2 linked regions of the Homo sapiens genome follow. The protein of the gene in region 1 binds, or shares a complex with, the protein of each later gene. Links are inferred from orthologs where the notes say so. Each region holds a gene or a part of one and is shown on either strand. Other genes may lie near its edges.

What was found.
Region 2: the proteins of CRY2 (region 1) and PER2 are in contact, whole or in part, in a crystal structure (PDB 4U8H), measured with the Mus musculus proteins. The link is inferred for Homo sapiens from one-to-one orthologs. Residues at the interface, in NP_034093.1 of Mus musculus: Trp58, Ser63, Ser64, Val65, Lys163, Leu166, Thr167, Lys169, Arg170, Glu215, Leu216, Gly217, Phe218, Asn330, Pro331, Ile332, Cys333, Ile334, Gln335, Ile336, Pro337, Asp339, Asn341, Pro342, Glu343, Leu345, Ala346, Lys347, Ala349, Glu350; in NP_035196.2 of Mus musculus: Tyr1132, Leu1134, Gln1135, Asp1136, Pro1137, Trp1139, Leu1140, Met1142, Ala1143, Asn1144, Thr1145, Ile1149, Met1150, Met1151, Thr1152, Tyr1153, Gln1154, Leu1155, Arg1158, Asp1159, Leu1160, Val1163, Leu1164, Asp1167, Gln1168, Lys1170, Leu1171, Leu1174, Gln1175, Ser1177.

What each region holds. Positions count from the first base shown.
Region 1 is NC_000011.10:45,878,379-45,882,284, reverse strand, and holds part of CRY2 (cryptochrome-2), read right to left. Parts: intron 1,372-3,906; 3' UTR 1-1,371. UniProt on the Homo sapiens protein: Transcriptional repressor which forms a core component of the circadian clock.
Region 2 is NC_000002.12:238,286,921-238,290,826, forward strand, and holds the start of PER2 (period circadian protein homolog 2), read right to left. Parts: upstream 1,691-3,906; 5' UTR 1,429-1,690; intron 978-1,428; exon of another isoform or gene 949-977; intron 1-948. UniProt on the Homo sapiens protein: Transcriptional repressor which forms a core component of the circadian clock.

The sequences.
Region 1 (3,906 bases):
CACGCACACACACACACACACTTTGTGGCTCAAGTGCAGGCCACAGGGTGGAAGGAAGACTTGCTTTAGTTGGCCACCGTCGTCCTTTTGCATGACATCTTTCTCAACACAGGCCTTTGGCAGTGGGAAGGAAGAGGTGGGAGGCACAGGCCACTCCTGGAATGCAAGGATTGGCTTCTCTGGGTCAAACCTCCCACCTACTGCTCCTGGAAGGAATGGTGTTCTGGGTGTAATCTCTACTTGGACTTTTGCCAACTGCCCCTGGCAGTCCCCATCCCTGAGTCCCTCTGCCTGAGTCCTTGGAGCTCAGCTACTGGGATAGCTGACATGGCAGTCTGGATGCTGACAAGTCCAGGACAGGCCCTGGAAGCCAACAGAATAAAGACTAGAATGGTTTCCCTGGCTGGGTGTCAGCTGTCCTCACTGGCAGCACTGTGGTGCCTTGGAGTGTGGCCAGAGAAACCAGGGGGCCTTACGCCACTGCAACCTGGTCTCCTCCTGGTAGAGTGAGTCAGTTTGACCCTTGCCCCTTCACAGCTCCTGGGTAGGCTCTGAGGCTGGCTCTTAGCTTCTGGGGAAGGAACAATGACAGCTGGGATTCTCTTTCTAATTTTAGGTTCTAAATCCTGAAAAGGTAGGTGTGCTGTCTTAGGCTCCTATTACAGTACCAGGCATACCCCACACCAGTCAGGTATCTGTGTGTACTTCTGTAGGGTGGTGGAAACTTTTTAGATCTGTCTATGGCCTCATGCTCAGTCCCAGAAGCCCAAGGAAGGGCCTGGGACTGAGCCCAGTAGCAGAGAATTTTAAAATAAGAAACAGAGGCCAGGTGGCTACGTCTGGACAGCATCCATCCACTCCGGCCTGCTCAGCCTCCAGGTCAGAAAGCAGGAACTCAGCAGGGCTCTGGCTGCCTCCAGAATCCCATGCTTTGGACAACAGCCAGAACTGCTGTGCTCCTGCTCCACAGCCTGACGTGAGGAGGGAGGGAAGGAGGTCTAGGGAGGCAGATGCCAGAATCCCAGCTAGGGTCCTACCACTACGTTCTGTTCAGACAAGGCAGCTGGCTTGCAGGAACAGGTCTCAGCTGAAAGTCACTGCCATAACCTCGAGCCTTGTGTCTGGAGGCCGGGAAACAGCACTGGCGTGCTACAGGTACTCCCCCAGCCCAGGCAACATTCAGAATCATGAGTGTCAACAGATGCATGCACACACAAACAGGCACACCACTCCCTCCTCTGCACACGCGCACACACACACACATGCTCGCTCTATCTCTGCCCGGTGATCAGCTTCTCTGCAGGTTGTACTCTGCTGCTGCGGTGGCTGCTTGGGCACCCAGGCTTTGCTCACGGAGCAAGGGCTCTGCAGCTGGAAGAGAAAAACAAGTGCAAAAGGAGCATTCAGGAGGCTGCTCAGTTGCCCAGGGACACAAGCTCCTCTGGCTGCTTCTCTGGGGACATTCAGAGCGGGACCTGAGAAGAGCTGAAAGAGTGAGCTGAAAGGGCCACGGTACCTGGGGACAGGTTGTTGCTGGGATGCCACTGGGATGAGGGAATACTGCCCCTCTGAGGTGCTGATGCAGGACAAGCTCCCCACTGCAGGCCCTCCACCCAGGGCTGCGGACAGCAGAGGAGGAGGAGGACAAGGCTATGTGAGAGTCACGTGAAGCCCTGGGGGATACTTGCTCAGATATGACAAGGGCAGCTTCTGAATCAAGGCACAGCAGCTGCTGCCAGAGATGGAGAATCAGGAAAAAATGGCTGGAAGAGAAGCCCGCTGGGACCAGTAATTTTGAAGAGTAAGGCAATGACTGAGTTTACAATCAGCAGGTGAGCACATTTCCACATATAGATGAAAGCACCCTGGCACAGTGCTGGAAGATTGTGGGGGCAGGAGGGAGAGAGGAGACACAAGGATGACTCATTTTAAAGATTTATGACATCCGGAATCTGGGGCAAAGAGAAGAAACAGCTTCATCCCTGATAATAAAGGAAGGACAGAGTGCGCCTGTCACAATGCTGAGTTGTCTGTTTAAATAGGTTTAGTGTGTCTGGGAGTCTACAGAGACACACAGCGTCCCATTAAAAGTTTGTGCAGTTTAAATGTGGGTGAGGTAGACAATAAGTAGGCTTACTAAGCCTGCCGTGGGTCAGGTACTATACACTTGTGCTGTGGCTGAATTCTGTCCCCCACAAAATTCTTATGTTGAAGTCCTAACCCCCAGTACCCCAGAAGGTGACTGTATTTGGAGACAGGGTCTTTAAAGAGGTAATTAAGTTAAATGAGGTCATTAGTGTGGGCCCTAATCCAATATGACTGGTGTCCTTAAAGGAAGAGGAAATTTAGACCCAGACAGTACAGAGGGAAGACCATGTGAAGACATAGGGAGAAGATGGCTGTTTATAAGCCACAGAGAGGAGCCTCAGAAGAAAAGAAGCCAACCCTGGCAACATTTTGATCTTAGACTTCCAGCCTCCAGAACAGTGAGAGGACACATTTCTCTTGATTAAGCCACCCAGTCTGTGGTACTTTGTCATGGCAGCCTGAGCAGACTAACACAACTTGAGATCCCAGTAACCTTGAAGCTTGCCCTCCATTTTTGTAGATGAGAAAACAGAAACCAGAGAGGAGAAGGAACTTGCCCAGGACAACAGCATTCATAAGTGGCAGAGCCAAAAAAGGAAATCCACATCTGTCTGATTCTCAAATCTGTCTTTTTACTAGCAAGTAATCTCTATACGATAGTATTGCTCATTAAGACTTTTAGAGAAGAAGACTTTTAGAAGAAATTCAACATGGCAGCATGAAGACTAATATCCAACAGACATACATGTGAATTAAGCTGTTATTAGAAAAGGGAAAATGCTCTTAAAGTCAAAGACATTGGAGACAAGGATTCAGTATCATGCGATGCTTTTAAGGCCGCATGGTAAATCTGAAGCAGATTTTATCTGATGATAATTTATCTGGAAGCTGGGCAAAATAAAGAGCAGACATAAGAGTGGGTGCCTGTATAGGTCAGTACTGTGTGTCTTATTCTTTTTTTTTTTTTGAGACAGAGTTTCACTCTTAGTGCCCAGGCTGGAGTGCAATGGAGTGATCTTGGCTCACTGCAACTTCTGCCTCCCAGGTTCAAGCGATTCTCCTGCCTCAGCCTCCTGAGTAGCTGGGATTACAGGCATGTGCCACCACACCTGGCTAATTTTGTATTTTTAGTAGAGATGGGGTTTCTCCATGTTGGTCAGGCTGGTCTCTAACTCCTGACCTCAGGTGATCCACCCACTTCAGCCTCCCAAAGTGCTGGGATTACAGGAGTGAGCCACCGAGCCCGACTTTTTTTTTTTTTTTTTTTTTTTTTTTTAATAGATGGAGTCTTGTTCTGTTGCCCAGGCTAGAGTGCAGTGGCGCGATCTTGGCTCACTGCAACTTCTGCCTCCTGGGTTCAAGCAATTCTCCTGCCTTGGCCTCCCAAGTGGCTGGGATTACAGACACCTGCCACCACAACTAATTTTTGTACTTTTAGTAGAGATGGGGTTTCACCATGTTGCCCAGGCTGGTCTTGAACTCCTGATCTCAGGTGATCCGCCCCCCTCAGCCTCCCAAAGTGCTGGGATTACAGGCGTAAGCCACCGCACCTGGCTGTGTGTTTTATTCTTTAAAATGTGTGTTATTTTCAATAATTTTTCCCTTTAAGCTTGTACTATAATAACCTAGCCATTTTTTTGCTACAAATGTATGTATTATTAAGGTGTACATGTATTTATTGAAATGTGCTGATTCTGAGTATATACTCCACACACAGGGCTCTCTCTGGCCCCTGTTGTTAAACTAAAGAGATGGCTATTCTTCTGAAATAGAAAACTTTCAGGATTGCAGGATATACCACAAAAGGTCCTCCTTGCC
Region 2 (3,906 bases), on another chromosome or scaffold:
GGCCCAAAGGCAAGAGCATATCAGAAGCCTCTGTCTCCTGCGAGAAACCTGGGAAAAATCATCTGTAGGGTAACAGAAAACCAAAAACCTGGGAATTAAAGTAGACCTCTGAGACTGCCCAATCTGAGCCCCTCCAAACAAACAAGGAAACTGAGGCCCAGACTGGGAGCCAGCAGCAGCCAGCTGGCTGACACAGGGCTCCCCCTTCCCACCTGGCACTCCAGTCTCCACAGAAAGCCAGGGCTGCGTTAGTTCTGTACCAATGAATCATACCAAGGCGACAGTGACAGATAACTGCAAACACCCACGGTGCCATCCCCGCGCTGGCACACCACACAGCTTCCACTCAAAAAAAACGGAGTCCCTTTCTTCATTATAGTCATATAGCACACAAAAATCAATTCACCTTGTATTTTAAAACTCAATTTCCAAATAAAGCCTTCAGGTAGAGTCCTGTTTTCTTCTCAGGCACACCCAGCCTGGGACCAGAAGCCCCAGGTGGGGGTAGAGGGTGGGCCAAGAAGTCTAGCAGTCCTGCTGTGCCATATACAGGTGAGAGGCGTCCATGTGGGGCTTTAGCCACCGTGTGGGGTTCTTAACACATTTCCCGGACTTAAGGCCCTTCCTCCCAAATTCCAGCCCACCCAGGATTCAGCACGCAAGTGGAGGCCATCACTGAACCTCTGAAGCTCATCCTGCCCCAGGACGATGGGAAGATCCTGCAGACAGCCTGGGCCTGGGCCTCAGTTTGCTCATCTGTCAGGCTGAGGGGTTACTCTGGGTGATTTTCAGGGTGCCTTCTGGCTCTGTTGTTCTGTATGAATCAGCTTTCCAAACGGGTTCCTTCTGTGTAGGTTACAGAAACCCTGGCAACCAACTCGTCATCCCTTACCCTGGCCTTCCTGAAGGGGGAAGCAGGCCACCTCCCACCCCCTGGTCTATGTCTGGGACTTGGCAGCCAAAGTACATCCCAGAAGGTAGGCGCGACTGCTGCACCAAAGAGTGGACACCCCCATTCCCTTCTATCCAGTCCGGGGAAAGGGAATTAATACAGGGTGGTCCAGGGGAGGCAAAGGGGCGAACATTAGAGGGTCTCCCCGCCCTCAGGTTCCCAGGCCTGGCTTGGCACCGGGACTTCCTTGTCCCTCTGATCACCCATTCCAGGAGACCCGTGGGTGTCCAGGAAAAGCTCCTAGATCAGCGCCCCTCCATGGCCCTTCCCCAGCCCAGGACTTAGCCCTGTGGCCTCAGAAGAGGCAGTCAGCTCCCCGAGGGTCCTCCAGATCCCAGGGCCGGCTGCGCTGACCCTTGGTTTCCTTGGCCTTCCCCATGCGAGGGGAGGGAGGGTTCCCAAAAGAGAATCGCCCACGGAACCGCAGCCCGCGCGCAGTCACTCGGTAGCTCGGTGCCCTACACACGCTGCCTCACCTTTCGGACCTCAGGCTCCTGAGCTGCGAAGCGGGGGTTCGAGTCCCCAACCCTCGGTGTCACCGCAGTTCAAACGAGCGCACCCTGCGCGCGGCTCGACCACTCTCCACCTGGGACAGGGCCAAGGGCACACGCCCCCACGCCGGCGCCGTTTCAAGCCGAGGAGTCCAGCAGCCCAAGGAACTTCCGGCGGCGCCTCCGCTGCCCGAGCCGGCGCTGGGACCCCGACCTGCCCGAGGCCCGCGCGCCGGCGGCGGTTACGTAAGCCGCAGCGGGGCCGCGCCGCGCCACTTACCGCCGGCCGCGCCCGCGTCAGCCCGTCCGCCGGTCCCTCCGCCGACTCGCGGCTCTGTCCGCCCGGCCCCGCGCCCGCCGCCGCCGCCCACAGCTGCACGTATCCCCTCAGCGCCGCCGCCTCCGCCGCGGCCGAGTCGCCGCTGTCACATAGTGGAAAACGTGACCGCGCGCGCCGCGCCCGCCCCCGGCCTCCGCCATTGGCCGCGACTCCGTCTCATCTGCATACATGAGGGGCGGGGCCTACGAACGCCGCGCGCCCATTGGTGGCCGCGCCCGTCGCTCTTTTTACATAAGACGCACATGGAACTCCATGTTCACCTCGTCGGTTCCTCAATGGAGACGCGGCGCGTTCGTGCTACCCGTCGTCCTCCCTAGTGGTCTCATCCACTTCCGGCGTCGGCGCCTTCCATTCACTACGCCCTCAAGCCCGCCAGCTCGGGGAGCGCGGAGTGGCGCGTACCATTGCGGGCGGGGGAGCTGGGCGCGGGGCTCCTGCGCACCTCCGGCCGGCCTGGCAGACCCGGCGCGCCGAAGCCGGACGAGGGAGACCTCCACCTCCGGCCACCGGCCAGAGGCGCGCCCCCAGCGGCCAGGGCCGCGGGAAAGTCCGCGCGGCATGCTTCATTCACGCATTCACATTCATTCATTTACTCATTCACTCACTCATTCATCGCGGGGCCCCGGAGCAGCCCAGGAGAAGGTGGCAGCACCGCCCTGCAGCAGCTCCGGGGGCACGCCCACCCGGGCCTCTGAGGTGCCTGTGGTCGACACTTGTCCCGGCAGCTACCAAGTGACCTTTCTTATTTTTGAGACCACGTGTTGCAATTTTTGGTTCAGGAAATAGAGTCATTGTTACTCTGGGGAGGTACAAAAGAAAGAAATGATGTTGTCCCTGCCCCCAAGCGCATCACTAGGGAGAAAGGACTATCTCATAAAAAGGAAACTTAATCAAATGCTAAATTGGGCGATGTGGGCTATAAATTAACCAGAGCTATCCCCACAGGCTCCGTGAGAAAGGCAGCACTTCCAAGGCGGGTAAGATGGGCCCTGAGAAAGGGACGCCTTACAACGGTGCAAGCCGTAGAGACGCAGGAGCCAGGGGTAGGAGGTTGTCCTGGGAGACAGCGCGGGACCCTGCATCACCTTGTTTCGGTAAGCATTGTGTGGGGCATGTGGAGCCTCTAAACTTCCATTTAAAGTGTCAGGAGAAAGAGTACAATTTCCCCGGGTCTGGGTAGAAGCCTGAGACTTACAGGACAGGAAGGAGCTTTCAGGCTCCCACGCAGCAGGCTCTGAATGTGTAGGCTCTCATGGGGAAGGCGAGACTGTCCAAGAAGCTGGAGCCCGCAGCATCTCTCTTTACTCTTCTTGTTCTTCTTTACCTGGACTCACCTGGGGACCAGGGATGGGACAGAAGGAAAAGTTATGAACCCACATCAGGAATTCCTGAGTGTGATAACTCCTTCTCTTCTACTTGACAAGGTGTGTGTGCAACTTCTCAGATGCAAACCAGGGCAAATACCAAGTTCATCGGGGCAGCCCTTCCCACAGAAGCCCCGGGAGGCCTGCATGCTGTTCACACACTCAGTCAGGTGGCCCCTCCTCCTGTTCCTCTGACATTGACACCTCGACACACTCCCCGCCCCCTCTCCCTAACACATACACACACAAATGCCAAGCAAACCCAGGCCCGGCTGCTGCGCCCTGCACACACCCAAAGGCTCTTTTGTTTCTTCCCTCCCATTGACGTCAATGGGGAGCTCCATTGTTCTGGAAACAAGAGTAAACAGACAGCTCATCCACACCTTACCGAGATTCTTCTTCATGCTTTTGCTGGGTCTTGCTCCATATTCAGCCTGCTACCTGATGTCACATTTCCTCCCTAAATGTAGCCTTTTTTATTTCCACCAATAAATCTGGTAGAAATATATTGAAATCAATTCTTTTAGAAATTATCAAGTGCTTTGGGCTCTAGGACTCTTCAGAATCTCATCTATTTTCAGTGATTCACAGCCAGTTTCTTCTTTCCTATTATTGGAAATTTGTGTACACTCCACAAATACTTGTTGACACCTGAGTGTTGAGGGGCATGCAAAAATACATCTCACTGCATCCCTGCTTGTAAGGAGTTGGTGATGTAGAAGGGGGGAGGAGGCAGATTCAGAGGCAATTTTGTCTAAG